Homo sapiens: one gene and its partners. The protein of the gene in region 3 purifies or fractionates together with the protein of the main gene of each other region. This does not show direct contact. Each region holds a gene or a part of one and is shown on either strand. Other genes may lie near its edges.

Region 1 (4,271 bases), on a different chromosome or scaffold from region 3:
GAGCCTCTCTTTCCTCGTATGTAAAATGGGATCATTGATACCTTCTTTGCCAGGGTTAGGTAAGAATTAGAGATAATATATGTAAAATAACTTAATGCAAGTTCTGGCATGTAATAGGGCACTCAGTAAATCTAAGGGGTTTTTTTTTCTTTGTTAGTGAGGGGTGGTAGAGAGAAATCATACTTGGTTGGCATCTCTTCCAGTTTTGTAAGGATACCTGATTTAGTCCTTTTAGAGTGGCATGGCTATTGACATAGAAGTAGTGACGTGAGTTTGGTCATGTGGACCAACAGGACTAAGGTAACTCCACCCTTCATACAGACACCCCCACATACTCACTAGTACCCAACCCAGCACTAGTCTTTTTGTAGAACTGTCTTTGAGCCATCCCCAGTCTTAACCCGATCATATGCGTCATTCTCTGTTCTAAGACTTCTAGGCACACATTTTTGTGTTCTCTGGCACATTTGTTATATGCATATGAAGTTGTGTTCATTTTGTTTTGTTCCCTCCCTTTTATCTGGTATGTCAAAATGTATTTGTTCCTGTACCTCCTGTTTTGTTTCTCTGGTTGGATGTGTCTGAAATATATGTGTCATTGGAACATCTTTTTATTAATAGAGGTGTCATCATATAGTTCGAATCTCATTTGAATTAACTTTATATGGTCATTTGATTTCTGTGTTTTATTTTAATTTCATTAAAATGTTGGATGCTTGGGTTTCCAGATGAACATAAATTATAAGTGTTTCCCCAGTGGTTTGTATTATAAAAGTGAAAACCTTTTAGTTGTGTCACAAACTCCTGGGCTCTCTAAGGAATGCATTATAACATTGTCCCTCCCTTCAACATCACCCTCCTAAATTGAAATTCGTCCCTTTGGCAGAAATCTCTCCAAAGGAAAGTAAAATATATCACTTGTGATCTGAGATCCTCTGTTCCCTATCTTTTTGTTTTTCATTCAAATCACTTTTCCTCTCCCTACTGCTGCAGATAGCCGGGATGAGTATATATTCTTTTCAACTATCACTTCTCATTTCATTTCCTACCCAGTATGGTTGGGAAAATCTTAAAATTTCAAAGTAGATTTCAAAGAATAAAAATTTAGACTTTTAAGTATATTGGTATCATATAAGAAAAGCTAGTATCCTAAAACTAAACTTATTAGACAGGACGTATGTTAATATTCCATTTTCCCTAAAATATCATGTTCATATTTTTCCCTAAATTATTTCTTCCTTTTCTAGGAATACACCTGTTGCACACATGATAACAGAACTGTGTTTTCTGATACATTCGATTCTGTATTTACTAGTTGTGTGATATTAGAGTTCTACATGGTTTCATTTTTGTGATAGATTGTAACATAGGCCTTAGGCACTCAGTCTGCTTTCCTTTTTCATTTCTGTATGTTCTCTATTTTAGGTCATGGAGTGGTTCAGTATTTTAATGTAGCATCAGCTATTTATGCAAAATACAAATTACATGGATTTCAGTACCCTCCTGGGAACCGAATAGGTGTTTCCTTCATTGATGATGGAAGTAATGCAACAGAGTAAGTACCATTCCAGGAGTGTCTAAAGCCGAGCTTTGAGTGTACATGATTGATAGGACTTGAAGAATAAAAATAGAAACAATTGACCTCTCAGGTGAGAAAGTCACACAAAACAAGCTACTGTTAAAAGACTGAATATTTTTAGTTTTCTGTAAATTATCAGTTATTTTTTCCAGTCTCCTTAGAAAAATGGCAACACAGATGGTAGCTGCACAGCTTGCATCAATGGTGTGGAATAACCCAAGTCAGCAACAATTTATGGTAAGTAGGTAAGAATTTAACCTTTATAATATATCAATAGCATATAAAATAAATGTGAAGAGAAATCATGCTTTGTTGATTATCTGTGTATGAAAATTTTCAGAGCTATTGTGGAAGACCACATAGATGCCATGATACATATCTGTCTTTAGCTCTTGGCCAAAAATCCCTAAAGGGCATTTTTTTCTTTTTCTTGTTTTCTACCTGTTAACAGCAATTTGGAGGAAGCTCTGGATCACAGTTGCCTCAAATCCAGACAGATGTTGTACTTCCATCATGCAAAAAAAAAGCTCCTGCTGAAACTCCTGTGAAAGAAAGACTTTTTATTGTGTTTAATCCTCATCCTTTACCTTTAGACGTATTAGAAGATATATTCTGGTAAGAAAGTTACATTTTTTGTTATATTTTATTTACACTAGTAATTTAATTATTCTTATAATCTAGACACTTCCTTCACCCAGTACCTATCAAGTAGAGAGTATTAGTTCTCTGCTTTTAAAACCTCCTTATTTGTATCATCTTTTTCAATTTCTGATTATTTTCTTCTCTTGTTTATCAGTCACACATCCTAAGGCTCCATAGAGAATTTCCTGCTATTTTGTTTTTGAAACATAAAGTGGGCCTGGTGCAGTGGCTCATGCCTGTAATCCCAACACTTTGGGAGGCCGAGGTCAGGGGATCGCTTGAGCTCAGGAGTTCAAGACCAGACTGGGCAATATGGCAAAACCCCATCTCTACAAAAAATACAAGAATTAGCCAGGCATGGTGGTACATGCCTGTGGTCGCAGATACTTGGGAGGCTAAGGTGGCAGGATTGCTTTTGCCCAGGAGGTCGAGGTTGCAGTGAGCCAAGATTGTGCTACTGTACTCCAGCCTGGGTGACAGAGTGAGACCCTTTTTGTTTTTTGTGTTTTTTTTGCTAAGCATCTTCTGTTTTGTTGGTGCATTGTAGGATCCTTAAGGGTTATGCAGTCGCATTGTGTAAACAATTACTTGATTGTAGGGAAAAATACATAAATGTTTTTTATAATAAAAAAGGGAAGGTTCTTATTTATTTTTGTGTTTTTAACATAACTCCTTTCTTTGCTTTTTCTTTTAGGCCTTTTTCCCATTTGCCTTACAAGAATGTTAGTGAATTTGATAGACAGGAAGCTTGTTAAAGAGCTGCACAAAATATCAGGGACATAATGTGATAGTATATTGAGGCTCAAAAGGAAAAAAATATCAGGATATGGTTCAAGTATTTTGACCTTTATTTAACTGATATATTTAGTTTTCTTCTTGAACCTCCTCTTTGTTCAAGGCAGGAACTGTGCTAAGTACAAGAGACATGTAAACAAAATATTAAATGGACAAGACATTATGATTCTTGTCCTCTTAGAGCTGATCTCATGTAGGAAACAGACAAGTAAACAGAAAATTACAACCCAGGGTGATTGTTGCTGTGATAAGGAATGTGTAAGATACAAAGGAGGAGCAGTTACCTTAGAAACTCTGAGAAGCCTTGAAAGAAGGAAGGTGTATGTGGAGACCTGAAGTATAAAAATAATTTCTCCACAGGTGAAAGCTGGGGGTATGCATGGTTATTTCTGCCATAGAGAATGTAAAAGAAGGGCTGTTAAATAGGGAATTTGAGAGATTGTTAAGGAAGATGAAACTAAAGAGTCCAAGGACAATGTCAGAACGGCTCTAGAGCTATATTAAGGAATTTGTTGTCACCATGGAGGCAATGGGGAGCTGCTGAGGGGACTTTTAGGGAGTAAATGATCATATTTATGTTTTAGAAAGATCACTCAGAAGACAGAGTGAAAAATGGATTGAAGAGGGACAAGCTCAGGGGTAAGGAAACTAGTGAAAAAGGAGTTAGATTAAGGAAAAGATGATGGTCTGAATGAGAAGAGAGATCTGAATGAGAATGAATAGAATTGACTGAGATGTTTAAGATTGACATGAGTTGGATGTTGGATCTGGGGAGAAGGGTGAAAATGGAGTCAAGAATGGACTCCAAATTTTAGACCTGAGCAGTTGTATTTATCAATTTTGGTTGATTATTTTTTTCACTTTGTTTCAGTCGTTTTGGTAACCTGATCGAAGTTTACCTTGTGTCAGGAAAAAATGTGGGGTATGCCAAGTATGCCGATAGAATAAGTGCTAATGATGCCATTGCCACTCTACATGGAAAGATTCTGAATGGGGTGAGACTTAAAGTTATGCTGGCAGATTCGCCAAGAGAAGAATCTAACAAACGGCAAAGAACTTACTGATTCTTGAGGTAAGCCCTTTTTAATCTGAATTTTAAAACATATTGAGTAAATAGTATATGAGGAATATGTGTAAGTACTTTATAAACTTTTCTTTTTAGTGATTTAGAAGTTGTCAGTTAAAAGAGCTTTGCAACTATTTAAACTTTAAAAATTGTTGACATTTACTGAAGAATGTTTTTGCCCTTCTGTAA
Region 2 (4,271 bases), on a different chromosome or scaffold from region 3:
AAAACATGGGACAAGTTCGAAAAATGGCAGCTGCTATTATTACTCTTCCTCATTTGAAGGCTGACCTGGCAACCAAAGTGGAAAAGATGAGACAGAGCATCCTTGAAGGAGTCAACATGAATCATCCACCGCCTTCTGCTCTACTTCCGTCACCTACTTTTGTGCCTCCCATGGTGCCCTCTCTCTACCCTGTTTCACTTTATTCCCGAGCTATGGGCTCCATGCCACTTCCCCCTCAAGGGAGGAGCCGGGGATTTGCAGGTCAGTACCAAAGAATGAGGTATTTACCATCCTCAATTTATGTCATAATAATCTATCCAGTCATTATTGTCAATAACAGGATCAACAGTTTCACATATATCTCATCTCATTGACTTTTTTTTTTTTTTAGACGGAGTTTCACTCTTGTCGCCCAGGCTGGAGTGCAATAGTGTGATCTCGGCTCACTGCAACCTCCGCCTCCTGGGTTCAAGCGATTCTCCTGCCTCAGTCTTCTGAGTAGCTGAGATTACAGGCATGCACTGCCACACCTGGCTAATTTTGTATTTTCAGTAGAGACAGGGTTTCACCATGTTGGTCAGGCTGGTCTCGAACTCCTGACCTCAGGTGATCCACCTGCCTCAGCTTCCCAAAGTGCTGGGATTACAGGCGTGAGCCACAGCGCCCGGCCTCATCTCATTTATATTCTGTGCTATGTAGTTTGAAGAGCAGCTTATATCCATTTTGACTTTTAAGACCATTCTTCATAGAGGTCGTTGGTCCCCAGGGATTTGACTCTCACCAACCAAACTCATGAAGTGACTGATGTGGAAACCAGAACCCACTTTATTACTTTAGAGAACCGTAAGTCATATGGACTGGCTCTTCATGGTTACTGTTTGTTCATTCCTTCCATATAGGCAATGCACACAGGAGCTTGCAGGAAGATCAGTGAGAGTAAACGGCCAGTGCTGGTAGGCAACAGTAGCTTGATGTATCCATTTCCACTCTGCGAATATACTTGACACATTTCCCTTCCTTCAGCTCCAGAAGCATGGAGAGAAATATGTCACCATCCATGCCACCAGAGGATTGCAGTTTAGTGAGGAAAACATACACACACACACACATATGTACACACAAACATATGTATAAATTACGGTGGCACTTGAGCTACAGTTTAACGATGAATACACAATCATGCCTAGGTTGCTCAGATACTGATCCTGATAATTGAGACAACCTGTCCCGTGGTGAAACAAGATTTTTTTTTTTTTTTTTTGAGGCCTGGTCTCCCTCTGTCCACAGCCCGGCTAATTTTTGTATTTTTAGTAGAGACGGGGTTTTACCATATTCGTCAGGCTGGTCTTGAACTCCCATCCTCAGATGATCTGCCCGCCTTGGCCTCCCAAAGTGCTGGGATTACAGGCGTGAGCCATGGCACCTGGCAGTGAAACAGGATATTTTAGTGGAGACATTTCAACATAAAATAGCAAGATTCTGTGATTGGGTCAGAGTGTCATCGCTGTGGTTGAAGGTGTTTGTTATCTATTGCTCCTCCCTTTAAAAGTAATAAAGCTGGAAGTTGAAGTTAGTTTTTTAGGGTGACAAAATTCAGTATGGGTGGTTAGCTCAAGGCTGGGCTTAGATGAACAGTGTGAAAGTCTGCTCTGGTAACTCCCTGTTCAGTCAGATCATGATCAAGTCTTAAAAACCAGGGAGCCAGCCAGTCCATCCCTTTCAGATGACTTTACAGATCCTTTCTCCGTTCTTTATGTGTTGATTTTATTTTGTAAGTCTCAAAAGACAGCCTTAATTTAAGCCAGGTTCTTGGAAGGTCACCACTGCCCTACCTACCAGTGATGCTTAGTCTCCAGTTACTGGTGGTTCACAAGGAGCCTCTTGCCTCCTGAAAGCCCACAGTAGGATCCTCAAATGCAAGTCTTTCTTGTCCCTCTTAAAAGTAACTAGCACTCTAGGCAGGGAGCAGTGGCTCATACCTGTAATCCAGCACGTTGGGAGGCCAAAGTGGGCAGATCACTTGAGGTCATGAGTTCCAGACAAGCCTGGCCAACATGGTGAAACCCTGTCTCTACAAAAAATATAAAAATTAGCCGGGCATGGTGGCGGGCACCTGTCTGTAATCCTAGCTACTCGGGAGACTGAGACACAATAATTGCTTGAACCCGGGAGGTGGATTGCAGTGAGCCAAGATCGAGCCACTGCACTCCAGCCTAGGAGACATGGCGAGGCTCTGTGTCAAACAAACAAACAAAAAGGTAACTAGCACTCTAGTTCCTTGGACTCTCAAGTTTTATAAAGTTTTATATAAATGAAGGACTCGTGTGTGTGTGTATGTGTGGATACAGGGTCTCACTCTGTCGCCCAGGCTGGAGTGCAGTGGTGCAATCATGGCTTGCTGCAGCCTCAACTTCCTGGGCTCAAGTGATTCGCTCATCTCAGCCCCCTGAATAGCTGGAACTACAAGCATGCACCAACATGCCTGACTAATATTTTGGTGTGTGTGTGTGTGTGTGTGTGTGTGTGTGTGTGTGTGTGTGTGGAGATGGGGTCTCGCTATGTTGCCCTGGCTGGTCTTGAACTGGGCTTAAGCGATCCTGCCTGCCTTGGCTTCCCAAAGTGCTGGGATTACAGGTGTGAGCCACCATGCCTGGCCTAAATGAAGTACTCTTTACTAACAACCTGCTAAATGAGTTAAGGGTTCATTTGGTTTCTTGTCATAAACTAAAATTAAAGGCCTAGTAGAACTCCATATTCTATGAAGGCTTATTTTTGTGCTAAATTACAAAACCCACTGTGCTTGTGACTTGGTTCTGGTTTTCAATTGTTGCTGTTCTTGCTTTTTTTTTTTTCTTTTGAGATGGAATCTCGCTCTGTCACCCAGGCTGGAATGCAGTGGTGCCATCTCTGCTCACTGCAACCTCCACCTCCCAGGTTCAATCAATTCTTCTGACTCGGCCTCCTGAGTAGCTGGGACTACAAGCATGTGCCACCACGCCTGGCTAATTTTTTTGTATTTTTAGTAGAGACGGGATTTCACCATTTGGTCAGGCTGGTCTCGAACTCCTGACCTCAAATGATCTACCCACCTTGGCCTCCCAAAGTGCTGGGATAACAGGTGTGAGCTACCATGCCCGGCCTATTCTTGCTTTTTAATTATAAATTACTGTTAGTTTAGTTTCATTATTTTCAGTTTAGTTTGGTTGTTGGTTGTTTGGCTAATTCTACAATCTGTAATGATGTATATTTGTATCAAAAGTAGTTTAGGACCGGGCACGGTGGCTCATGCCTGTAATCCCAGCACTTTGAGAGCCTGAGGCAGGTGGATCACTTGAGGTCAGGAGTTCGAGACCAGCCTGGCCAATACGGTGAACCCCTGTCTCTACTAAAAATACAAACATTAGCTGGGCATGGTGGCATGTGCCTGTAGTCCCAGCTACTCAGGAGGCTGAGGCAGGAGAATCACTTGAACCTGGGAAGTGGAGGTTGCAGTGAGCCGAGATTGCACCATTGCACTCCAGCCTGGGTGTCACAGTGAGACTCTGTCTCAAAAAAACAAAAAAAAGAGTAGTTTAGGCTTGTAATTTTCCAATAACTAGATGTTAAGACATTCATTCTTTCAACAAATACTGAATGCCTACTATATGCTATGATCTGTGATTAAAAAATGAGTCACCTGCACCATACTTGGTAAAGTAGATGTGTACAGATCTCCGGCCCTCCTCACTAAATGTGCTTCCATCATGACACCTTTCTGTTATCACAGAATCTTTTTTTTTTTTTTTTTTGAGACAGAGTCTTACTCCGTCCCCCAGGCTGGAGTGGAGTGCAGAGGTGTGAACTTGGCTCACTGCAACCTCCACCTCCTGGGTTCAAGCGATTCTCCTGCCACAGCTTCCTGGGTAACTGGGACTATAGGCACGGACCACCACGCCCGGCTAATTTTTGTATTTTTAGTAGAGGCGAGGTTTCCCCATGTTGGCCAGGCTGCTCTCGAACTCCTGACCTCAGGTGATCCACCCGCCTCGGCCTCCCAAAGTGCTGGGATTACAGGCATGAGCCACCGTGCCCTGCCACAGAGTCTTTTTATCAGAGAGAAATGGAAAAAAGAGTAGGTAGCGGGTTGTAGGATCTTTTGTCCACCTCTTATCCTGCCTTGTACTTACAATTCTTTTTTCTTCTTCTTTTTTTTTTTTTTTTTCAAGACAGAATCTCATTCTGTCACCCAGGCTGGAGTGCAGTGGCGCAGTCTCAGCTCACTGCAACCTCCA
Region 3 (4,271 bases):
TAAGTATGTATTTGCTAATAATTTCAGAGACTCCAGCCTCTGAATATACTCTAGAAAGTCAACTTCTTCCTCTTCCATTCTATTTCAGCAGCACTAAACTCTAAATTCTCAGGAAAAAAAAATTCTCCCTGGCAGATCATTGGCAATATAATTTCCTTGGACATAATTCCAAGTGGCCCTCCTCTAAGTACTCAAGCAAATTAGATTTGCCTAAATTCTCTGACACCAGTTTCTGCTGTTTTTCACATTACAGGTCATGCTAACTATTCCCTGCCATCAATAATCTTGATTCACGTTGCTTTTATTGAGTTTCACCGGTTCTGTATATATACACACAGCATAGCAAACGTCAAATTCTGTCCCAAGCCATTCATTAGCTAGATTAATATGGATAGCTTACACTTACCCATTAAGTATAATTTTCTTCAAAAGGCAATAAATAGAATCAATTCATTTACACTGGAAACACCTATTTCCAGATACTTCAATTAATCTGCAGTATGCTTTAGATACATAAGTATCAATACCATCTTTTTACAGACTGCAATGACTCGAAGGCTACTTTTTATATAACCTAAAATATAGGACATTTAATAATATCGGATGGTGATGATGATAAAACTAGCCAGTGGAACACGGCATGAATCAAATTAAAGATTGGGGAATTAAAGAAAAATACACAACTTTCCACGCATTATTTAAAACCAAAAATTATCTGTCTTTATGTATGTGATGGAGGCTCAATCCTACCATAACCATATGCAGATTCACAATACCATCTCAGGTCCCGTAAAGCGAAAATGTTTTATTTCATTCTTTTAGCATTTTGTTTCCTGCCTCTTCCCACTCCAACCCCCAATCTTGAACAAGATTTAAAAACATTCTTAAGATTGATTTCCCCTTCATCCCTTTGAAAGGTACTGATAAATCTCAAAAGATTCCAGTATTTGTTATCCTTCCAATCCTCAAGTGAATCATGACAAACTAGTTCTCACGGATGATGTAAAAAAGTCTAATGTATACATATATGTACATAAAAACAGGTAGTTTAACACCATTTCATATATACATGACTCCTATCATTCTGATGCTTAATACAGTCATTTAACAGGCAGTACTGATTTAAAAGCTCAAACAAAACTTCACTTCCTTCCAAATCTTTCTGAAATTCAAAAGTCTGTCTTTGTTACTTTCTAAAGTATATCTTTACAAAAACTTCTTAATATTTTAACACTAAGCAATAAAAATTAACAAACAGTAGCCACTGAAATCCACCAACAGCCTTTCAGCTATTAAGTATGCCAGAAAGTCTGAGGACACTAAAAAGAGGAATTAAAACAAAAATCTGCATTGAGGCCTAACTGGTTTCAGATACTACTGCTGGTTATTAAGATTTCCCATTATTACAAGTGGAGGTATAATCTGGTTTTAAGCAACTATTTTTCACAAATAGGTTTATCAATAGAAAATATAATCTCCATAGGTTTAATGAGAAGAAATTACCAGGGGTGAGGGGCTCCGTAAGCCAACACAGAATACTGACCATAAGGGAAAAAACCCATCAAACCACAGTCCAATGTTCCAAATGGACATTTGCAGAAAAATACAGATGTGATTGAAAGGGGTACCCTTTGGAATAAGACAGAAATGGATTTAAATGACCATTTTCTCAATTTTCACAAGTCTGAGTACATAGCTAGTATTATTTTCACAAGTCTGAGTACATAGCTAGTACTAATCAAGATGCAAGGAATTCATACCCCACGGCATTTTTCATGTGTATCAGGCCTTAATTCTCTCAAAGATCCACAAAGGAAAAACTCAGTAGAAAAGCATCCAGGCATACAAGGATGCTAGCAATGGTTGTTATGAGTTTAAGGATATGATTTCTCATTTTCTTTATGGTCTGGTTATTAAATTTGCTACAAAAATCATCAACTACTTATTTTTAAAATACAAAAATCCCAACTTCCAAAGTTTGCCTAAAATTAATAAAATACCCATACTTACTATGAGGACTTAAATTCAAGATGGAGGCAACAGTAAAGACAGACGTACTCACAATACGGATTAATTCCACTCTTAGTAACGTGTCCTCCTAAGGAATGAACAGTCACTACAAATTCATTCATTTTGGGGATCAAATATTTACTAACCATGTGCTGAGTACCACATTTCAGGGAAAATCCAGGGCACAAATAGTAACAAAGACTGTCCTGAGAGCTTCCTTAAATTCCAGTGGTATTGCTACTTCAAATTTTATGGAAGAGGTACATTTCCTGAAGTTTTAGAAATAACCAAATGATGTCAAGTCACACTTCATTCTACTTCAAAATTTTAAAGTATCATACAGGTGAAATTTCCATAAAGGGAGGACGATACTGTAACACAAAGAAACTACTGGAAAAGAACTGGGATTCTTGGAAGGGGTCAGCAAGAGCAGAGTAGTTTTTGAATCTCTGACTCCCAAAATAAGACTCAAGATGGCAAAATCACTATCCTACAGACAGCATTTAAATCAAAATTCCAAAATGCAAGGCAGTAAAGGCAAGCCAGCATATATGGTTTCACTGACTGTGGGAGAAATAAAAGGTAAGCAACTTGGAGAATAATAGACTTAGAAATACAAGAATACCAAAATAACCAGCAGTTATTTATTGAAAAGCAACAGGAACGAAATTTTAGAAAAGCAGTTAAAACTTAGAAGTTTCACCTGCTCCAATAGTGGGTGAGCACAAGGGACTTCAATAAAAATGTGTGAAGGTGCAAGAGCAGTTGCATCCCTGTAAAGTCTCATAAGTAAACAAACCCTATGTGGTTGATTCCACTGCCAATCCCCCTTCCTCTCACCAAAAGGTAACAACCATTATGACTTTACTAGCACTTTCTCACTTTTAAAATAATTCTAATGCCTAAATGTATAACTATAGACATTCTAGTCTTCCCAGAAAAATAAACGTGATGCATTTGAAGCATTTTTGTAGGTAAGTTCCGCTTCTATTGCATTAGGTTAAAATTTATCTGTTTAAGAATCCACAGTATTAACTTGTAGTTTCCCAGTCTGTATTTTCCAGGATTGATACTCTCAGAACAATTCCACATATTCTTCTGTAACTCTTGAAAGCAGCAGCTGGGACCAAGGCTTACTCAGCTTCATCTGCAATATTTTGTCAAGACTACCTCGTCCTACAAGTGGCAATACCTTTTTGTGGTGTTATTGATGCTTAAACAATACCATTTCTCTCTAGGTAGTATGGTGTGGTTTCTCGAGCACCACTTTTAACATGTTACGCAGACTGTTGTTAGAAATCCTAAGAACAGTCCCTCAGTTCTTTCATGTAACAGGTTGCCAGCATCCTTTTATAGTAGTACAATAGTTTAGATAAGTAAAACAAACTCCTTGATCACATTTTTTTTTTAATTTTTTTGAGTTGGAGTTTCACTCGTTGCCAAGGATGGAGTGCAATGGAGCAATCTTGGCTCACTGCAACCTACGCCTCCCTGTTCCAAGTGATTCTCCTGCCTCAGCCTCCCCAGTAGCTGGGATTACAGGCATGCGCCACCAGGCCCGGCTAATTTTGTATTTTTAGCAAAGACCAGGTTTCTCCATGTTGGTCAGGGTGATCTTGAACTTCTGACCTCAGGTGATCCGCCTGCCTCGGCCTCCCAAAGTGCTGGGATTACAGGTGAAAGCCACTGCACTCGGCCCTGATCCCATTTTCTTGCCTTGTTACTCCCTTTACATCTGGAAGGTGTAAAAACCACTTGTAGAATGAATAGGTCTACTTTTGCTTTTTGCCTCATACAGATCTAAATTACTTGGTCATATTCTATATGAATTTTTATAACCGAGTTCTAACAACTAACAACCCAATAGTAATAAATGTCCAGCAATAATAGTCTTTTAAAAATACAACTTCAAGTGATGTGCAAATTATAATTTGAGTCAAAAAAATAGTATCTGAAAACGTACAATACATAGGAGACATAAATGAACTACATAAAAATCATTTAAGAACGGACAGTACAGAAACACATCAAAATATCTTAAAATGTTCTGTGGGTACTCTGCTTGTGATTAATCTTTACAATCATTTTCACAGTTTCTCTGTATTTCCCAAATTCACTACAATGTACATACAAGCTTGGGATTTCTGTAGGAAAAACTCATTTAAGCCAAACAAATATTCCTTAAAACAGAAAATCCATTTGGTAGAAATTTTAAAAGGTTAATCACATTAGTAATAATAGTCCAAGTCTTAATGCACCTG
Region 4 (4,271 bases), on a different chromosome or scaffold from region 3:
AGTAATTAAACCAAACCAGATGCTGAAAACTTCAGACTTCTAGCCTACTATTTTCCACCTGGCTGTGCTAAATTAAGAATTTCAACCTAAGTGACAAAACCTACTGAGACAACTCAGCAAATTGGCCGCACGGGCACGGTGATCACAAGACCTTATGTGTGTGATTATTTGTTTACAAAAACAGAATGGATTTTAAAACAAACTATGAGACAGGAAAGCTTAGAGTCAGTCATCCTTCAAAGAATGCTAAAGGCCCACATCACTAACTCAACAGCAGACAAGAACCTCTGAATGACTTCACCCAGTTCTCACTAGTATAAGAAGACAACTCTAATTGCCAAAGTCCTATTTCCCAAATGGAACCTCATTTTAACACGCTTTCTTCCAAAGTGCAAAATACTAAAAACTGTATGGAAATTTCTTATTTGTATATATTTCTCTAGGAAGAGACAGCTACAGCTTTCTTCAAATGCTTAAAGAGATTCTAGCCCCTCAATATTAACAAGAACTTCCAATTTTACAATGACTCTAAAGAAATGCAGGAAAGCTAAGAATCTCAAAACAACTATCATTCCCTAGTCCCATAAAGAGATGAAATTAGTCAAGAAAGTGTGTACTAAAAGCTTTCAGTAAAAAAAAAAAAAAAAAAAAAAAAAAAAAGGGGATAAAAATCCATCTTGAAGGAATAGTTTATTGCTTTGATATTTATAAAAGATTTTTGTGATATCCTATTAACATAGTCTTTAAAGTTGCTGAAATAATCTCCAATAATGAACAACCCACAAAAACAAAATGCTGGAAGAAAAGAACATTTAGAATATAAATTTCCCTTTCATGATAAACTTTTTAAGTCAAAGGAAAAACCCAAGGATTAAATCTATCACTACAGATGGTCCCCAATTTATGATGGTTCAAACTTACGATTTTTCAACTGTATGGTGATATAAAAGTAACACACGTTTAGGAGAAACTATATTTTGAATTTTGATCCTTTCCCGGGCTAGCAGTCTATGGTAAGAGACTCTCTCGATATAGGGCAATGGTAGCAAGCCACAGCTCCCACTCAGGCAATGGATCATGAGAGTGAAAAATGGATACTCTGTGTTGCCAGATGATTTTGCCCAACTATAACATAAATGTTCTGAGCATGTTTAAGGTAGGCTAGACTAAGCTCTGATATTCAGTAGGTTAGGCGTATTAAATACATTTTTAACTTAATGCCATTTTCAACTTGCAATGGGTTTATCAGGAGCATCTGTATTAGATTGGCCAACGGAAAAATATACAGGTACATCAAACTGTAGATAACATACCTGGTTCAAAATATACCAGTGCTAAAGCAAAACCTTCACTGTGTCTTAAAAAAAAAAACCTATCATTTTACTGTTACTGTCTTACAGTAAGTATAATTTTAAATTTGTCAAGTTTTTTAAAATACATTTTTAAAAGTGGGAAAGGGGATTTTGCATGTCAGACCTTATCTCCTATTCATTTTCAGTCAGAAACTGATGTAATAGATATCAGTAATATAAATATATACTAAGAAACTGCAAGTTTATTTAAAAAAAAGACACTGTAAGGCATTCTATAAACTGGTTTAGTTTTATCCCCATTCCACCTATTCTTATGACTTTCTGGGTTATTTTACCTATTTTACTCCTCAAAGCCCCCATCCTTCTCTTCATAAAGATTTCTTACAACGAAAACCTGTATCTGTTGTCACACAGAACTATTCAGCAATATTCAAAAAGGTACCATGTCATTAAGCATATCAATTCAGTTCACGCATTGAGAGCCTAACTCAAAGCTCTGAGAAAAGAATGCTCGTTGCAAAAATAGTTATTTTTATTAAGACCAATCTCTAGAAACTTAACATTGATATTAAAGATGAAGATGTCTATGAGAATGCATTTAGCACAGCGTTGCTCACACAAGAGTTACCTTTTGTTTTGTTTTGCACAATGGAATACAAGCTTAGAGATAAAAAAAATTCTTCCCTTGAAATAAAAAATTCTTCTAGCCTTACTAAAATGAAACATATGATACACATCACACAAGCTGAAAGCCAAATCTGTTAAATTTACTAGTGAAAAATGTCCTAAGTACCCCACAAAAATCTAAGATTTTATTACGCAAACTTTGACTTTTAATTCAGACTCCAAAAGTTATCATTTAAATCATAATAAAACACTTATCTTTTAATATGTAAAAGCCTTAAAATAAGCACTGCCTTTCAAGCTTAAGTGTCTTCTGTTTCCACTTGGCAAATTTACGTTATGTGAAATCCTTAAATAATTAACTAGCACTATAAACCGTCTAGTATCTCGAACCAAATAAATATACAATAAATGTTCTTCCCAAATTAGAACATACAAAAGTGTGGATTTGGCACTGAACTACAATATGTGGGCTCTGTGCGTAACCAGAACCGGTGAAGACTTCTACACCTGTAAAATGAAAATGGCCAAAGCAAGAAAAAATTTTATGCATTTTATGTCCTCCATAGTGAATTTGATAGTCAGGTGTGGCATCACTAGACATAAAGCCTTCAAACAGTTCTATAATATATCAACAAAGCAGCAATACTGACAGCTAAATACTAACAAGTGGGAAGGCAACTAACCAGGAAAAGCTACGTAATCTGTGGGTCCCAGTGCAAGATGAAAATGCAGGGTAACCTTGTCCAAAAATTCTTAAGAATTTCAAGATTGGGTAGGATGTGCAACCATACCGGTTACAAGCTGGAAAAGCAGTCCTGCCCATAACTAAGTACTCACGCCAAAAATAAAATTAACCTCCCCCCACACACACTCAAATGTGGTAGCTTACTATCATTTTTGACCTGTCCAGCTGAGTAGCCAAGAAACAAAGAGCTGGGGGTAGACTGAGATGGGCAGGTTTTCCACAGGGTGGCACACCATCTAGCCCCCTTAAAATGTCAACAAAAAAGTAACCAAACCAAGCTAAGTACCACAGATTCTAGCCTCTCTCAATTCCAAATAAACATTATGAGTGATAAAAGTGGCAATAAGAATGTGACGATGTGATAGATTTAATAAGACATCAAATGGGAGCGAAAATACTGATGCTACCATGCAGACAAGTCATCAAAAAGGGGAATGGTAAAGTCAGTCTTGATAAGAAGCTTAAGAAGCTATTTCAGAGTATCTAGTCCTTTGGGGAAAAAGAACATGAAGGCTAATTTGCCACTGTGGTGCTCTTGTGCAATGCCAATAATGCCTGAAAAGCGTCACAGGTTTTTTAAAAAAATGTCTTTCAGCAAAGAAAGAGGAAAAGGTTGATCCCAGCTTAAAAGTCAGGATATTCTGGAAGGCTTTGCTGTGTCCTTAAAGAGAACCTAAGACTTGCTTCTAGAATAGAAGTGGGGTGGCAGGAGGGGAGGCACATTATTTTTAAAAGATAAGCAGGGAAGGCTGGAAGAGCCAAGAGCGGTTGGTTACAAGGATTCAGCTAGCAGCATCTGTCTGTGTATAAATAATCAAAAGGTTGATTCAAGGAATGATGGTATATGACACTCACAGCATCATTCTCCCTTAACCTACCAGGAGCTGAGTCTTAACTAAAACCACTGAAACTGGGACAGAAAGGCTTTGTTTTTCTCTTGTGAAGAGGCGGTAACCAGAACAAATCAACCAAAAAAACTAAATCAGAGAGGATCTATAAAAACACATCTTAGGCCTAGAAAAGAAAAAAGGTTCCATAGTAACCTTTTGACACTGAGTGTCAAAAGAGTGGTAGACACTGACCAGCAGTGGGTACTTGCTCTAAACAAGAAGCATATCCTATAACTAAAATTATCTTGAACCACAGGGAAAGTGTGTGAGCACTGAATATAGCTGACTTGATTGTTCCTGAAAGAAGACACTACACAATGAAGGAAACACCTACAGATAAGGAAGAGGGAGGGGCTTAACACCTAAAGTTGTCTTTCAAAGGAAGAAAAAAACAACTAACTCCCTGAAAGGTGGCAGCACAAAGTTACCCAAATAACAGGCAACAAGGGGCTGGTTTTAACCACACAAAAATAAAAATACTCTCTCAAAAAGGAAAATTACAAAGGAGGAATCACAGAAAATTTAATGTAACATGTTTCTTCATATTCTAATTTTTCCTACCCCATTCTGGCCTTTATCTTCCAGATGTTTTCTTCCTCTTCTTTCTCTCCCCATAGTTTGCAAGCGAACTTCCCGTAAGTATATCCTCCCCACAACCTTAAGTGTTGTTACCTTAGCATCCCTACAAACCTCCTA
Region 5 (4,271 bases), on a different chromosome or scaffold from region 3:
ATTTTGGATGCTTTCCTTTTAGTTAAAAATCTATTTTTTAAAAAATAAATCTTAGAAGCTTAAGGATTATAGAAGGCTATTTTAAAATAGGGTAGGAATTATTACAGTCAGAATTAAATAGATGCATCTGAGCATTTCTGGACAATTGTCAGCTGCTGTCAGTCACTGCCCTGACTTTCCGTATGCTTGACTCTCTATATATAGAGTGTGTGTATATATATAAACTATAATAGAATGTATTATATATATTTATATATTATATAAATTTATATTTATATATTATAAATTTATATTTATATATTATATAAGTTTGTTTATTATAAGTTTTATATAAATATATACTCTAATATATATTTTACATATAATTATATACTGTATATATAGAAGCAAGCATATGGAAAGTAATACATATATATATATATATATATATATATATATATATATAAAATCATTTATTCAACAAATACTTAACAGTGCCAAGCTCTGTCCTAATTACTTGCCATACAGCAGTGGACAATATAAAGATAGAGCCTCCCCTCTAGAGTAGAGAGAAGACAGTCAAGTAAAGTATAGTGTATCATATAGTGACAGGCGCTATGGAGTGATACCAGGTAAAGAGGGGAGAGATTTCTGTGAGGGAGAAGTTACTATTTTATGTAAGTTGATTAGAGAAGGCTTCGGTGTGAATGGCATTTGAACAAAGACTTGCCGGAGGTAAGGTAGCAGCCATATAGCTGTATGGGGAAAAGCTGTGATCCAAAGGTAACCATGGGCACAAAAGCCTGAAGACTATAGGGTTCCTGTCATGTTAACAGAAGAGCAAGGAGGCCAGTGGTGCTGGAGCAGAGTGAGTGAGGGGGAAGTTGTAGGAGATAAGATTAGAGAGATAGCAGAGGGTTGCATCTTATAGGGAGATTATAAAATTATACTTCTGTGTTGAGACTCGACTATCAAAGATTAAGGGGGGTAGGATTAGGAGGCTATACCAATGAAGTTCATGTAGTAGTCCATTTATAAACAAGGAAAAGGAAATGCTAAATGGAAAGTAATGTGTATGGATACTAGTCCAGTGCTAAATCTTAACTAATTGCTTAGACTTGCTTTAAAAATGTCTCTGAAGCTTTTTAGTTACTATGGGATATGCAGTCCATTGTTTGTTCTTTTAAGAAAGTATTTAGATTGTTCAAAATCTTAGCTAGAAACAATACGAATACAATTTTGGGAATTTGGGCAATTTACAAAAATTTCAGATTTGCTGTATTAGCCCCATTTAAGCTTCTTAGAATTAGGTCCTTGTCTTTTGGACTGTGGCTGATTTTTTTACTTAACTAAAGAAAAAAATAGAAGTGAAAGGATTTGTTATTTTGAGAGAGTATAGTTTATTTCAGAAGTGATGGTTGCCTGTTTTAAGTCTGCGGGCTCAAGGCATGTTATCTTTCAAGTTGTTCAATATCAAAATAGATGAGCCAAAAAGAAGGGAACAGTGTGCTTAAGGTTTAAAAACGTAATGTTGAAGTTGTTGGTTTTAGTTACTTTACTTTTCTATTTTACAGGGTTGGTTTTTGTTTTCCATTTTGTGGGTCTAAAATTTCTTGTAAGGCTATAAGATGTACAGTGTACCCGTATAAAATTAGGATTGACTTATAGAGGGGAAATTTATTTGGTTTATTAAGATCCTTTCAGATGGATTTTATACCTGCTTCTCTATACTAGCCAAGTCTGTCTGAGTGAAGTGGTAATGTTATCTTTAATTTACATTTTAAAACTTTTACATAGTTAAATTTTAATAAAAAATCTGTTCTTGCCTTGGGAACTACCATAGATACGTTTTCTTCAGGGTACATTGAGCGAATTCCCCAAATTGTATTCGTATTGTTTTATTTCATTTCCCTGTTCCCTTACCCAGGTTGTCTTATGAGTTCAATATCATGTTTCTGTTCGTAAGTTCAGATTTTGTCTGTAGTCTTCACCCCTTTATAGTCTCTCAACTATCAGGTGAAAGTGGAACATTTCTTACCTCTTAATACTTTCTGCCTCCTCCCATTCTCCAGACAAATATTGTCCTTTAATATAGCCAAAATGAACAAAGGGTTTGCAGTTCAGAGATGTGACTATGTACATGTATTTTCTAGTTGTTTCTCAGAAATCATACCTTCTCTTCCCACAGCACTATTTTCCCCTTTTCAAGCTTATAAGAGGGCCTAGGAGGGTTGCTTTAAAGGCTGTGGTATGATTCCAAACTGGAACAAGCCAGCTGGAAAGTTAAGTTAGGAAGACTGTAGAGGTGGAATAAAGGGTTGGCAAAATAGATGAGCCAGAAAGAAGGGAACAGTGTGCTTAAGGTTTAAAAAACAGCAACAAAAAATAACTGCTCTCATTCAGCTAGTTTTTCAGCATCTGCATTCTCCCAACCTCACTGAAATTTGGTTCTGAGGAGCTCTGCTTTCTAGAATACGGTTTCTTAACATCAGCACTATTGACATTCTTGGCCAGTTATTTGTTTTGGGAGATGCCCTATGCAACGTGAGATATTTAGCAGCATGCCTGGCCCCTACCCACTAGATGCCAGTTGCTTCCCCTAGTTTTGACTACTAAAAATGTCTCCAAGGTTTGCCAGATGACCACTGGGGGCAAAATCTACACCCTGTTGAGAACTACTGCTGTAGAAGAAGGCTATTTGAATGTCCTAGCTGGCAGCTTGCGTAAATATTACATCAATTATGCTTTTTTTCAATAAGTGAATCCTGGAAATGAAAGACCTTTGTGTGAAATTTGGCACTTTGGGTGGTGGAACCTTGATAGGTCCTGTGACTTAGGTTTGATCTATACTTAAGAATCAAGGTCCCTGAACCTCTGTGCCACACATGTCTACAACTTTACACAGGCAGATATCTCCAGGAATAAATACATCTCAGCTCTCATGCTGCATGCGTATTATACTTTTTGTGGCATTATCCTTTCAAAATTATAGTCAGTGGACATTCAGTCAGGTTATCATGGTAATTAATGGGTTGGGAAGTTGACGTACAGAGTGTCTTACCCTGTAACCTTTATAATACCCCCCCTCAGATCCTATGTGGATAGTAATAGATTCGTTTTATTCAGCTTCAGTTCATGTGGTATCTGAAGATCATTTCAGTCATTCAATAGATTTAACATTCCAAGCTTAGAATAGCCAGGTGCTGTGTTTTATGAGAATCACCATACATCATTTTCAAGCCAAGTGTTCCATAGGCAAGTAAGTGATTATGAACTTTGTAACAATAATTCCTTTGGCTGTTCAGATCTGAAGATTGAAGTTATATGTAACTTGCTACTGTGTAACCATATATCCAACTGCAGATTTTCATTATTAATACCGATTCCCTGCACAGTTACAGGCTCTTGCTTTCTTGTCCATATGCCGACCAAATAATTGAATCAATGGAAGTCGAAAATTGGATTGTATTAGACTAGCCAAAGTGTTTAGCAGCAGCATCAGGTTCCATACTTAACACTATTATTTTAATTTTTTAAGCTTTATGTTATACCACAAAAGGACTTAGGTGAGTGTGTTAAGGCTTTAAACAAAGTGGTAAGAGATACAAACAGCAAGGGTCTTAATAGACAGGTGTTTGAGGTTAATTTTTAGCACACCTTCATTCAACTTGAATTGTTGAGCAATCAAAAAGACAGATGCTTGGTAATGATTTTAGAATGGTAGATTTAAAAAACATAGAGATTATTCGAATGATATGGTTTTTAAATAAAGCAGTTATCAGTAATTCAGTTAATAAAAGCTAGTTAAAGCAGGAATTGTAAAACGTGGTCCTTTTTTCCACCAATTTTTTGATATAGTGCTCAGGACTTTTCTTTGAATATACGTATACTGACTGTCGTTCCCATTATTTAGGATAAACTATACCGTTGTGCTGCATCATATGCAGAACTGAAATTGTTAATTGAAGACTTGAGATTAGAGCTTAGAAACATGTGAAGCAAGTGAGAAATCCTAATGTTTTATGCTCCTTTTTCCCATCTTTTGAAGCTTTCCTCTTTATAGCTGATATGACAGCTTTTTTTTCTGATCAAGTCTTTCCAAAGCATTCGACTTGGTTTTGCACCCTTATTTTGTCATTTACATAATACATTATTAGACTAATGAATACTACTGGTACTAACAGGTTTCGGAACAAGCAACTGAGGATCAGTAAACAACTCAAGTTAAAAGAATGGGAGTAGCGGTACATGAGTATTCTAACTACTAGTGTTTAACATGTTGTTGGCAGCTT
Region 6 (4,271 bases), on a different chromosome or scaffold from region 3:
TGTTTCTGTTGTCTTCCCTGCTGCTGCCCACATCCTTTACCCACCGTGTCTCTCGGCCCACTGGAGGTATCAGAAATTCCAAATTTTCAAAGCAGTTTCAGTATTTTCAGTATATATGTTGGGATTTTATAATGGTTCATGGCCAGAAAAGGTTCAGCACCTCCCACACCTTTAAGGAAGAAAAATGAAAATGACACTAGTTTTGAAATGTAAGAGAATTAAAGTACTGTTAAAAATGAAAAGAAATTGGCAAACATCAGGAAGTACAATACTAAAAGCCCCAGTTTATGATAACAAAAGTTTTCCCAGGGTATGCCAGTAAGTAAAATACGCAAGGAGAGTGTGTGTACTTATCTCTGTGGGGGGAAAGGAAGAAAATGAGGGAAGAAATATATGTCTATATTTGTATAAAGAAACATACAGGAAAGATACAGGAGAAACTAGTAAAAATGTGATCTATGGGGGAGGCGGTGGGGAGAATAGGAGGGATGGGATGGGGGCTGTCCGAGGGGAAGATTGTACCTTGTAAAATAATGCAGAGTTCTGACCATGTGAAGGTATGACCAACTCAAAAAGGTTTTTTTGTTTTTTTTTGGGACGGAGTCTTGCTCTGTCGCCCAGGCTGGAGTGCAGTGGCGCTATGTCGGCTCACTGCAACCTCCGCCTCCCAGGTTTTAAGCAGTTCTCTGCCTCGGCCTCCCAAGTAGCTGGGATTACAGGTGCCTGCCACCACACCTGGCTAATTTTTGTATTTTTAGTAGAGACAGGGTTTCACCATCTTGGCCAGGCTGGTCTTAAACACCTGACACCTCATGATCCACCTGCCTTGGCCACCCAAAGTGCTGGGATTACAGGTGTGAGCCGCTGTTCCCAGCCTCAAAATGTCTTTTAAAAGTAGAGCTTTCTGCCCAGAGAATCTGGAAAACTTTCAGGCAAAAGGGCCAGAAAGTAACTCAGGCAAATATTTCCCCGCTGAGTCAGCAGATAGTGTAAACTCAACACAAACGAGGGGCAGCCTCCCCATCATCAGCGCCTTCCCCTTCATCAGTGCACTCACACAGACATTGGTCCGTTTCCTGTTCTTGGCATCTCTGTACTTTGTTGGTCCAACTCAGACAGCAACTTTAAGATGTTCAGCGCAGCCTAGTGGGGATGGAAAGAAGGGTAAAGCCACAGCCACCGCTTGGGACCACAGCATAATACACTGGTCAGGCAGGCAAGAGAGTTCCTGCTGCCCAGCAAACAGGTGGCAACTTCTTCAACTCTGGTACTACTAAATAAAACTTTGAATTTTTAATTTAAAATACAAATTAAAAAATATTCAGTTACCTCACTGAATCATAACCTCTGAAAATGTTATATTTTTCCTTCTAGTATTTTTAACCATGTGGTAACCAGACTGTATAAATGTTATATCCTGCTTTCTAACAAAAATCTATCATGTATTTTTCTTTCTATAGAGACAGGGTCTCACTAAGTTGCCCAGGCTGGTCTCAAACTCCTAGGCTCAAGCGATCCTTCCACCTTGGCCTCCCAAAGTGCTGGAATTACAGGTGTGAGCCTCCACACCCGGCCTATCATGTATTTTTCTTCTTATTACATTATCTTCGGAGACACTGTTTTGTTTTGAAACGCAGTCTCACCCAGCTGCCCAGGCTGGAGTGCAGTAGTGCAATCTTGGCTCACTGCAACCTCCACCTCCCGGGTTCAAGCGATTCTCCTGCCTTGGCCTCCCAAGTAGCTGGGATTACAGGCACCCACCACCACACCTGGCTAATTTTTTTTTGTATTTTTAGTAGAGATGGGGTTTCACCACGTTGGCCAGGCTGGTCTTGAACTCCTGAGCTCAGGTGATCCGCCTGCCTCAGCCTCCCGCAGTGCTGGGATTAGTGTGAGCCACCACACCCCACCCAGAGACATTAATTTCATGCATGCATGACATCCCATCAAGTGAATACATCACAGTTTACTTAGATTTGTTGATCTGATCAATTCCTTTTCTCAGTTTTCTTATAACAATAATTTCATCTGAACAGAAGACCAAAGCAAGTGGTTTTTACAGCTGCCAGAACGTGGACCTGCAATTCCTTGTTCTGGTGAGAGATGAAGTGAGTGCAGTCTCTGGGTGAGCTGCAGGATCCCAGTTGCCCCTCCAGGCCAGCAGGGAAAAGGAAGGGAAAGGTGGGCTAAAGCTGATGAGTTCTGATCAAGAGTGAGAAATCGATCCAATCAGCTATGACAAAAAGTCTTCAAAAATATGAACACTATCAAACGATTCATTGCTCTCAAGGTCTATGGGACAATCTTTCTCCCATCTTCCTCAGGCTAGTAACAAGCTGAACCAAGGCAGGCTCCACATAAACACACAACACCCCAATCCCTCACCCAAGGTGTGACGTACCATATCATGGCAGGACTCCACATCCTTGCCGATACCATGGCTGATCAGAGGTGGCTGAGAGGAGCAATTGATAAGAGATACAAATTCGTTCTTGTTGTTTTTGGGGAAGTCTTTGTATTCAACCTAAGGGGGAAAAGAGAGCTGAGGCTAGGTAGGGAACAGCAAGTATGAGTGGGCTGGAGGGCTGCAGCTCCAGGCCCCACAAGCAAGATCACCAGCTCTTTTTTCCAACTCAGCCCCACTGTGGCCATACTAACACCTGCCCTGTCAGCCCAGAACCTTCCAGGAACCTAGGTGTCTGCTCAGAAGCCCAAGACTGGGAGAAGCCATATCCTTTCCTACCAGACAGAAAGTGTCAGCACGATGAGTCTGTTCTTTGAAATCCAAATTTACAACCACTGCTAGTGGTTAGAAGCTTTTAGGGTTGGCTTGCATGTTGAAATCTTACTACCAAAGGATAAAGATATTTCTCTTACCACATATGCTTACAATACTTCTATACCTCCTACCCTTCCATCACTGCTCCCCAGCCCATCCCTGGACAGAACTTGATTTAAGAAAAAAGTACAAAGTTCAAAGTTCATTTTCTGAGAGAAGCCAAAAGATGACTGTCCTGAGGCACAGCCATCACAGCTCAGGCCAGACAGTTACCTGGAATCCCTGGACTCTGGAAAGATAGTCCAGTTGCTCAGAGGGTCTCGTGAGAGGTCCATGGGGTACGTGGCCTGAAGAGATGTTATTCTTTAAAATGGTCTCGGCTGTGGGCGAGGTGCCCCCATACAACAACTCTCGGGCTATCATGGCAGTTACCGTGGCCTTGGCAGGATTCGGAGCTGCCCTGGTAAAATCTTTGGTGTGATGTCCTTGACTAACTCCTACAGCCTGGGCGACCTCGGGCACCATGGGAAGAATTCCAGCAGGCAGCTGCTGATGACTTAGATAAGGCATCCTGAACTCATCCTCTTTATTACCTGGGAGGGACATACACGGTAAACACGAATCCACATCCACAGCCTGGAAAAACGCAATGACACCATCAAACCCCACGCTGGCCCTCCCCTTGGCACGCATGGCAGCGCAGGGAATCAGGGAATGATAAAGACACTTTGCATGCGGGACCTCACTGGCTGGGCTCCTGCTGTTATTCAGGACCCATGCAAATCCCAGAATCACGTTCAGAGGAAGACGATATTAAGATCACACTTACTAGTCCCATTTTCATCCCCAGAGCCAGGTTCAAAAAAGGTTACTTTTCTTCCATCCCCTGGTTTCTTTATGGGTGTCTTAAAAAAGAAGAAGAAAAAAAAAAGGCCATGAGCATAAATCAGATCACTGAAAAATTAGCTCCTGCTGTCTAAATCTACACAAAGTCCAGTCAGCAATAACTGTGGCAATCGGCAGAAAAACCCTGCCCCACCTGACCACTGGCACCCTGACAGACACCTGGGCAGAGCCTGCCTCCTTCTCCTAATGCACCCTCCTGCCCACACCCCTGCCCACAAAGAGCATCTAACAAAGTGCACTAACCTGTGAATGCTGAGCTGCACTCTGCACCCACAGGAAGACGGGAAGCATTTAACCAGAAAGAGCAGAGATGCTAGACGGTAGAGCCCACCAAGGTGGGGAAAGAAGCTTTCAGACTGAAGCTAAACAAATAAATCAAGAATATTTCCTGGAGCTGATATCCAATTAAAAAATAAGGTGACATTCCAAAATTAACACCCTTACGGGGAAAATGTTATTACCTAAGAATTTTGTCTAACACAACATCACCTTTCTAAGAAGTAACAAAGGACACTCTGAATGTCCTACAAGATTCTGAAATGAAAAACCCTAAAGCCAAGTCTAAGATCTATACTGGTGGTATCTG
Region 7 (4,271 bases), on a different chromosome or scaffold from region 3:
ATGGAGTCTATGTCGCCTAGACTAGTCTCAAACCCTCGGCCTCCAAATTGCTGGGATTACAGGCATAAGCCACCACACCAGGCCTCAAGTTAGGCAGTATTAAACATGAAATAGAATTATAAGACACATTCTATGGAACATAAACTTTTTAGAAAATTTTAGGGAACAGAAGTAGATTTTTTTTAAGAATCCCTGTTAAGGGTGGGCGTGGTGACTCACGCCTGTAATCCCAGCACTTCAGGAAGCCGAGGCGGGTGGATCACCTGAGGTCAGGAGTTCCAGCCCGGCCTGACCAACATGGTGAAACCCTGTCTCTACTAAATACAAAAAATTAGCTGGGTGTGGTGGCACATGCCTGTAATCCCAGCTACTTGGGAGGCTGAGGCAGGAGAATCACTTGAACCCAGGAGGCAGAGATTGAGTGCGGTAAGCTGAGATTGAGCCACTGCACTCCAGCCTGGGCAACAAGAGCAAAATTCCGTCTCAATAAATCAATCCCTGTTAAAGGTAAAATCTTCAAAATAAAAACCAGTTCCTAAAAACACCAAGACTTCCTCCCCAACCCCCAGTCTTTCTGTTTAGATGTCAGACATGGGGTGTGTGTGTTTTGGGTCGGGGGAAACGTTAACAGCCATTTGAAGTTGTGGCCCAGAATTTAAGTCAGCCCCAGGGTGACTCTGGAAGAGAGTCTAGGGATATGCAACACTGACAATGGTGGGATAGAGGGGCTTCCATATTCCAATTTCAAAGGATTCCAACAAAGACCAAAGTCTAAGGTCATAAAAATGACATATTCCTTAATAGAATCAAAATACATCATTACACAGCAATGAAAATGCTAAACAGCAAAGCCTGAGTTTATTCTACACATCAAAGCTTTCATGCAGGTTTTTTTTTTTTTTTTTTTTCTGGAGACGGACTCTCGCTCTGTTGCCAGGCTGAAGTGCAGTCATGTGATCTCAGCTCACTGCAACCTCCGCCTCCCGGGTTCAAGCAATTCTCCTGCCTCAGCCTCTTGAGTAACTGGGATTACAGGCGTGCGCCACCACGCCCGGCTAATTGTTTTATTTTTAGTAGAGATGGGGTTTCACCATGTTGGCCAGGATGGTCTCAAACTCCTGACCTTGTGATCCGCCCACCTCGGCCTCCCAAAGTGCTGGGATTACAGGCGTGAGCCACCGTGCCTGGCCTCTCCACCTTTTTTGCATCTATCAATGCCCCTAGCTCTCTAGCAGCAGCTGTGCAAACACCAGGAGGGCCCAAAGGGGTCTTGGTAAGACACTTTTCAGGGCACTGCGGCAGTGCTATGGTCCCGTGGTCAGGAGACCTGCAGCCTGTCAGTAACTGACAGTGTGACCTTGAGCAAGATCAACTCTCTGGCTTGCCTCCTCTTATCAAATGGCACAACTATTTCAGCTTAGAAGGTTGTTGTCAGGTTACAATGAAAAAGCATAATGACTTTTTAAAAAATGACTCAACTTGATAAAAATACAAAATACTGCCTTTATTCAAAATGAGGCAGAGATGAATAAGGAGGGAATTTTGTCCCAGTTAAATATTTATTCCATTTAAACTACTCAAAGTCCAGTTGTCCCAATAATTAATAATTTTCACTTCCCCAAACCACCAAGCAAGGTGCACTGTCATTCTCACCTGCGGGACCTATGTTTCCCATTCCGATGCCTTTATTCAGGTGATTGGCATCAATGGGTTGCCCTCCTGGTCCTAACCCCATGCCAATACCACCAAGGCCATCTGGAAAGAAAAGAGAAAGAAGCTTAGTTTTCCCCTATTTAGCAAACCTTGACCCTCAAAGGAAAAGAGTGTTTAGTGAGTTGCAGCTATCCACTTCAGCCTACCCACCCCCACCCACCAGTGACCTCAGGGCCCAATGCAAAATTCAACATCGGCACACTTGGAAACAGAGCCTTGTTCCGGCGTTTGGGATATGTGTGTATACAACAAAGGCGGCTGAAAACCAACACGGGAAAGTTAACAACCCCCACACTAAGATTCTTGAGAGCCTATTTGTTTCACTAACCCATGGACTGAGAACTGTCTGATCAAAAAAGGTGACTCAAGACATCAGGTGGCAAGCAGCACAAATGTGCCCAATCCCTAGTAGCCCAAAGGATGTTTCTCATGAAAAAACACGTTACAAACCAGCCAATCAACATCCTGGGTGTCCACTACTCTCTGAATCTGGGTGGTTTTAGTAACAATGAAGCTAATGTATGTATTCAAAGAACCTATCTTCCTTCCCCCAAAGCTTCCCAACCCACAACTGGATACCCAGCCCACACTCAACTCCATGCCCTACCAACACAGACAGGGACACAGAAATACAGGCTGGTCTCTGGAAACAGCCAAAAGAGCTGACACTTGCAATATCTGGGGTAACCACCATCTGAGGCTTAAACTACAACCAGGTAAGCTTTTAAAAATCGTAACAAGGGCAGGCGCAGTGGCTCACGCCTGAAATCCCAGCACTTTGGGAGGCCAAGGCGGGTGGATCACGTGAGGTCAGGAGTTCGAGACCATCCTGGCCAACATGGCAAAACCCCATCTCTACTAAAAAAAAAAAAAAATTAGCCTGGCATGGTGGCACATGCCTGTAATCGCTGCTACTTGGAAGGCTGACAGGAGAATCACTAGAACCCAGGAAATGGAGGTTGCAGCAAGCCAAGACCGCACCACTGCACTCCAGCCTGGGCGACAGAGCGAGACTCCATCAAAAAGAAAGAAAAAGGAAGAAAGGAAGGAAAGAAAGCAAACAAAGTTCATTTAAAAAGTAAATAAAACCTGCCACCACTTCCCAGGCGTTTCATCTGATGAACATTCCATCTTTAATTGCATAGCAACAGCAGCAAGAGATCGCCACGGTGACTTACTCTCCCAAAGCACTGAAGGCTTTGAAGTCAAGCCTCCGAAATGGCCGGGAGACCAAGAGCCATGGATAACAGGCTCCCTGGAGCAGTGTGCTCCTCCTCCTGCTCCAGCACAAGAGTCAACAAGAGCCATCGCCATGGTCCAGGGTGACCACTGCTCAGGTGAGCACACTGACAATTTATTTGGGAAATGAGTATGTTATGTCCAGGAAATGCAATCCTTCTCTAACTAATGTTGCCTTTCAACAGATGAGCCTTCTCATGAAGCCACAGATTTCCCTTCAAGATACATCTGTCATGCTGCCATAATGCTACGCTGCAAAGGTGCTCTGGCCTGGGCTCCCATCCAACTCAGTGAGTAGGGCCCTGAGCTTGAGCTGCTGCTCCAGACCAGGCCCCCTCAACCCGCCTGGTGGAGGTCACCCCAGCACAGCACACACAGGCCTCTCACCCTCATCCATCTTTCTTCTCCAGGAGAGCTTTACCTGCGCCAGTGATTCCCTGAGTCGTCCCACCGCTGTATGCACTGAGGTTCTTGCTTCCAGCCTCTGGCTTATCTATGACTCTGCACTAATATTTGCCACTTCTACCTATGTGGTAGCCCATCAACTAGCCTTCCCTGTCACGAGACAGATTTTCACCTGGGTGTCACAAATAGCTGATCCCTTTCCCCTCTGCATACAAATTATTTGTTCAAGACACTTCACATACCATAAAACTCAAAGTATTCGGTGGTTTTTAGTATATTCAGAGATATGCAACTATCACTACCATTTAATTCCAGAACATTTTCATCACCCAAAAAAGAAATCCAACCTTATTAGCAGTCCCGTCCCTACTTACTCCTTCCCGGCCTCAGGCAACCACTAATCTACTTTCTGCCTTTATGCATTTATCTATGCGGAGCATTTCCTGTAGATGAAATCGAGGTTCATCCACACTGCAGCATGTGTCTTTCATCCTGCTGCAAACATCTGCGTGCGAATTTCTGTGCAGATGTCTAGTGTGCACTGCTAGCCCACATGGGACTAACCAGTATCTTCTGAATTAGAGTGCAGCCTGGTTTTCATTCCCTTCACAGGTTCTGATTCTTCCTTCCCCAGGACACTTTCAAAATGCCTAACCACATCCTCTACATCCTGGTATTACAATCCTAGGATTACCATGAGGTAATCCTAACAATATCCTCAAGTTGTGAATCTCTGCTCATTTCTCACCCTGAAAAATCTATAGAAAAGAACTGGCCAAGAGAACTGAGGGCTAACCTGGCACAGGTTCAAGTGAAACCATATGGTAATTTTCTGTTTATTAGTGTAACTCCAATTCAAACTCTCAGCCCTAATCACTGAAACACTTACGGGGAAGTTGTTGTGGACGCTCAGG

What was found.
Region 1: the proteins of HNRNPC (region 3) and RBM45 purify together in Homo sapiens (affinity purification with mass spectrometry; 2 studies listed by BioGRID and IntAct, with this or other methods). This does not show direct contact.
Region 2: the proteins of HNRNPC (region 3) and FAM120C purify together in Homo sapiens (co-immunoprecipitation; 2 studies listed by BioGRID and IntAct, with this or other methods). This does not show direct contact.
Region 4: the proteins of HNRNPC (region 3) and ELAVL2 purify together in Homo sapiens (affinity purification with mass spectrometry; 2 studies listed by BioGRID and IntAct, with this or other methods). This does not show direct contact.
Region 5: the proteins of HNRNPC (region 3) and NCBP1 purify together in Homo sapiens (co-immunoprecipitation; 3 studies listed by BioGRID and IntAct, with this or other methods). This does not show direct contact.
Region 6: the proteins of HNRNPC (region 3) and STAU1 purify together in Homo sapiens (affinity purification with mass spectrometry; 2 studies listed by BioGRID and IntAct, with this or other methods). This does not show direct contact.
Region 7: the proteins of HNRNPC (region 3) and HNRNPM fractionate together in Homo sapiens (co-fractionation; 2 studies listed by BioGRID). This does not show direct contact.

Annotation. Positions count from the first base shown.
Region 1 is NC_000002.12:178,122,097-178,126,367, forward strand, and holds part of RBM45 (RNA-binding protein 45), read left to right. Parts: intron 1-1,425; coding exon 1,426-1,555; intron 1,556-1,731; coding exon 1,732-1,816; intron 1,817-2,030; coding exon 2,031-2,194; intron 2,195-3,887; coding exon 3,888-4,080; 3' UTR 4,081-4,088; intron 4,089-4,271. UniProt on the Homo sapiens protein: RNA-binding protein with binding specificity for poly(C). May play an important role in neural development.
Region 2 is NC_000023.11:54,081,705-54,085,975, reverse strand, and holds part of FAM120C (constitutive coactivator of PPAR-gamma-like protein 2), read left to right. Parts: intron 1-59; coding exon 60-261; intron 262-899; coding exon of another isoform or gene 900-934; exon of another isoform or gene 935-953; intron 954-4,271.
Region 3 is NC_000014.9:21,234,363-21,238,633, forward strand, and holds part of HNRNPC (heterogeneous nuclear ribonucleoproteins C1/C2), read right to left. Parts: intron 2,099-4,271; exon of another isoform or gene 2,011-2,098; intron 1-2,010. UniProt on the Homo sapiens protein: Binds pre-mRNA and nucleates the assembly of 40S hnRNP particles. Interacts with poly-U tracts in the 3'-UTR or 5'-UTR of mRNA and modulates the stability and the level of translation of bound mRNA molecules. Single HNRNPC tetramers bind 230-240 nucleotides.
Region 4 is NC_000009.12:23,815,687-23,819,957, forward strand, and holds part of ELAVL2 (ELAV-like protein 2), read right to left. Parts: intron 1-4,271.
Region 5 is NC_000009.12:97,636,230-97,640,500, forward strand, and holds part of NCBP1 (nuclear cap-binding protein subunit 1), read left to right. Parts: intron 1-4,271. UniProt on the Homo sapiens protein: Component of the cap-binding complex (CBC), which binds cotranscriptionally to the 5'-cap of pre-mRNAs and is involved in various processes such as pre-mRNA splicing, translation regulation, nonsense-mediated mRNA decay, RNA-mediated gene silencing (RNAi) by microRNAs (miRNAs) and mRNA export.
Region 6 is NC_000020.11:49,114,725-49,118,995, forward strand, and holds part of STAU1 (double-stranded RNA-binding protein Staufen homolog 1), read right to left. Parts: intron 3,685-4,271; coding exon 3,609-3,684; intron 3,373-3,608; coding exon 3,053-3,372; intron 2,525-3,052; coding exon 2,402-2,524; intron 1,144-2,401; coding exon 1,058-1,143; intron 170-1,057; coding exon 154-169; 3' UTR 1-153. UniProt on the Homo sapiens protein: Binds double-stranded RNA (regardless of the sequence) and tubulin.
Region 7 is NC_000019.10:8,468,810-8,473,080, reverse strand, and holds part of HNRNPM (heterogeneous nuclear ribonucleoprotein M), read right to left. Parts: coding exon 4,247-4,271; intron 1,756-4,246; coding exon 1,654-1,755; intron 1-1,653. UniProt on the Homo sapiens protein: Pre-mRNA binding protein in vivo, binds avidly to poly(G) and poly(U) RNA homopolymers in vitro. Involved in splicing.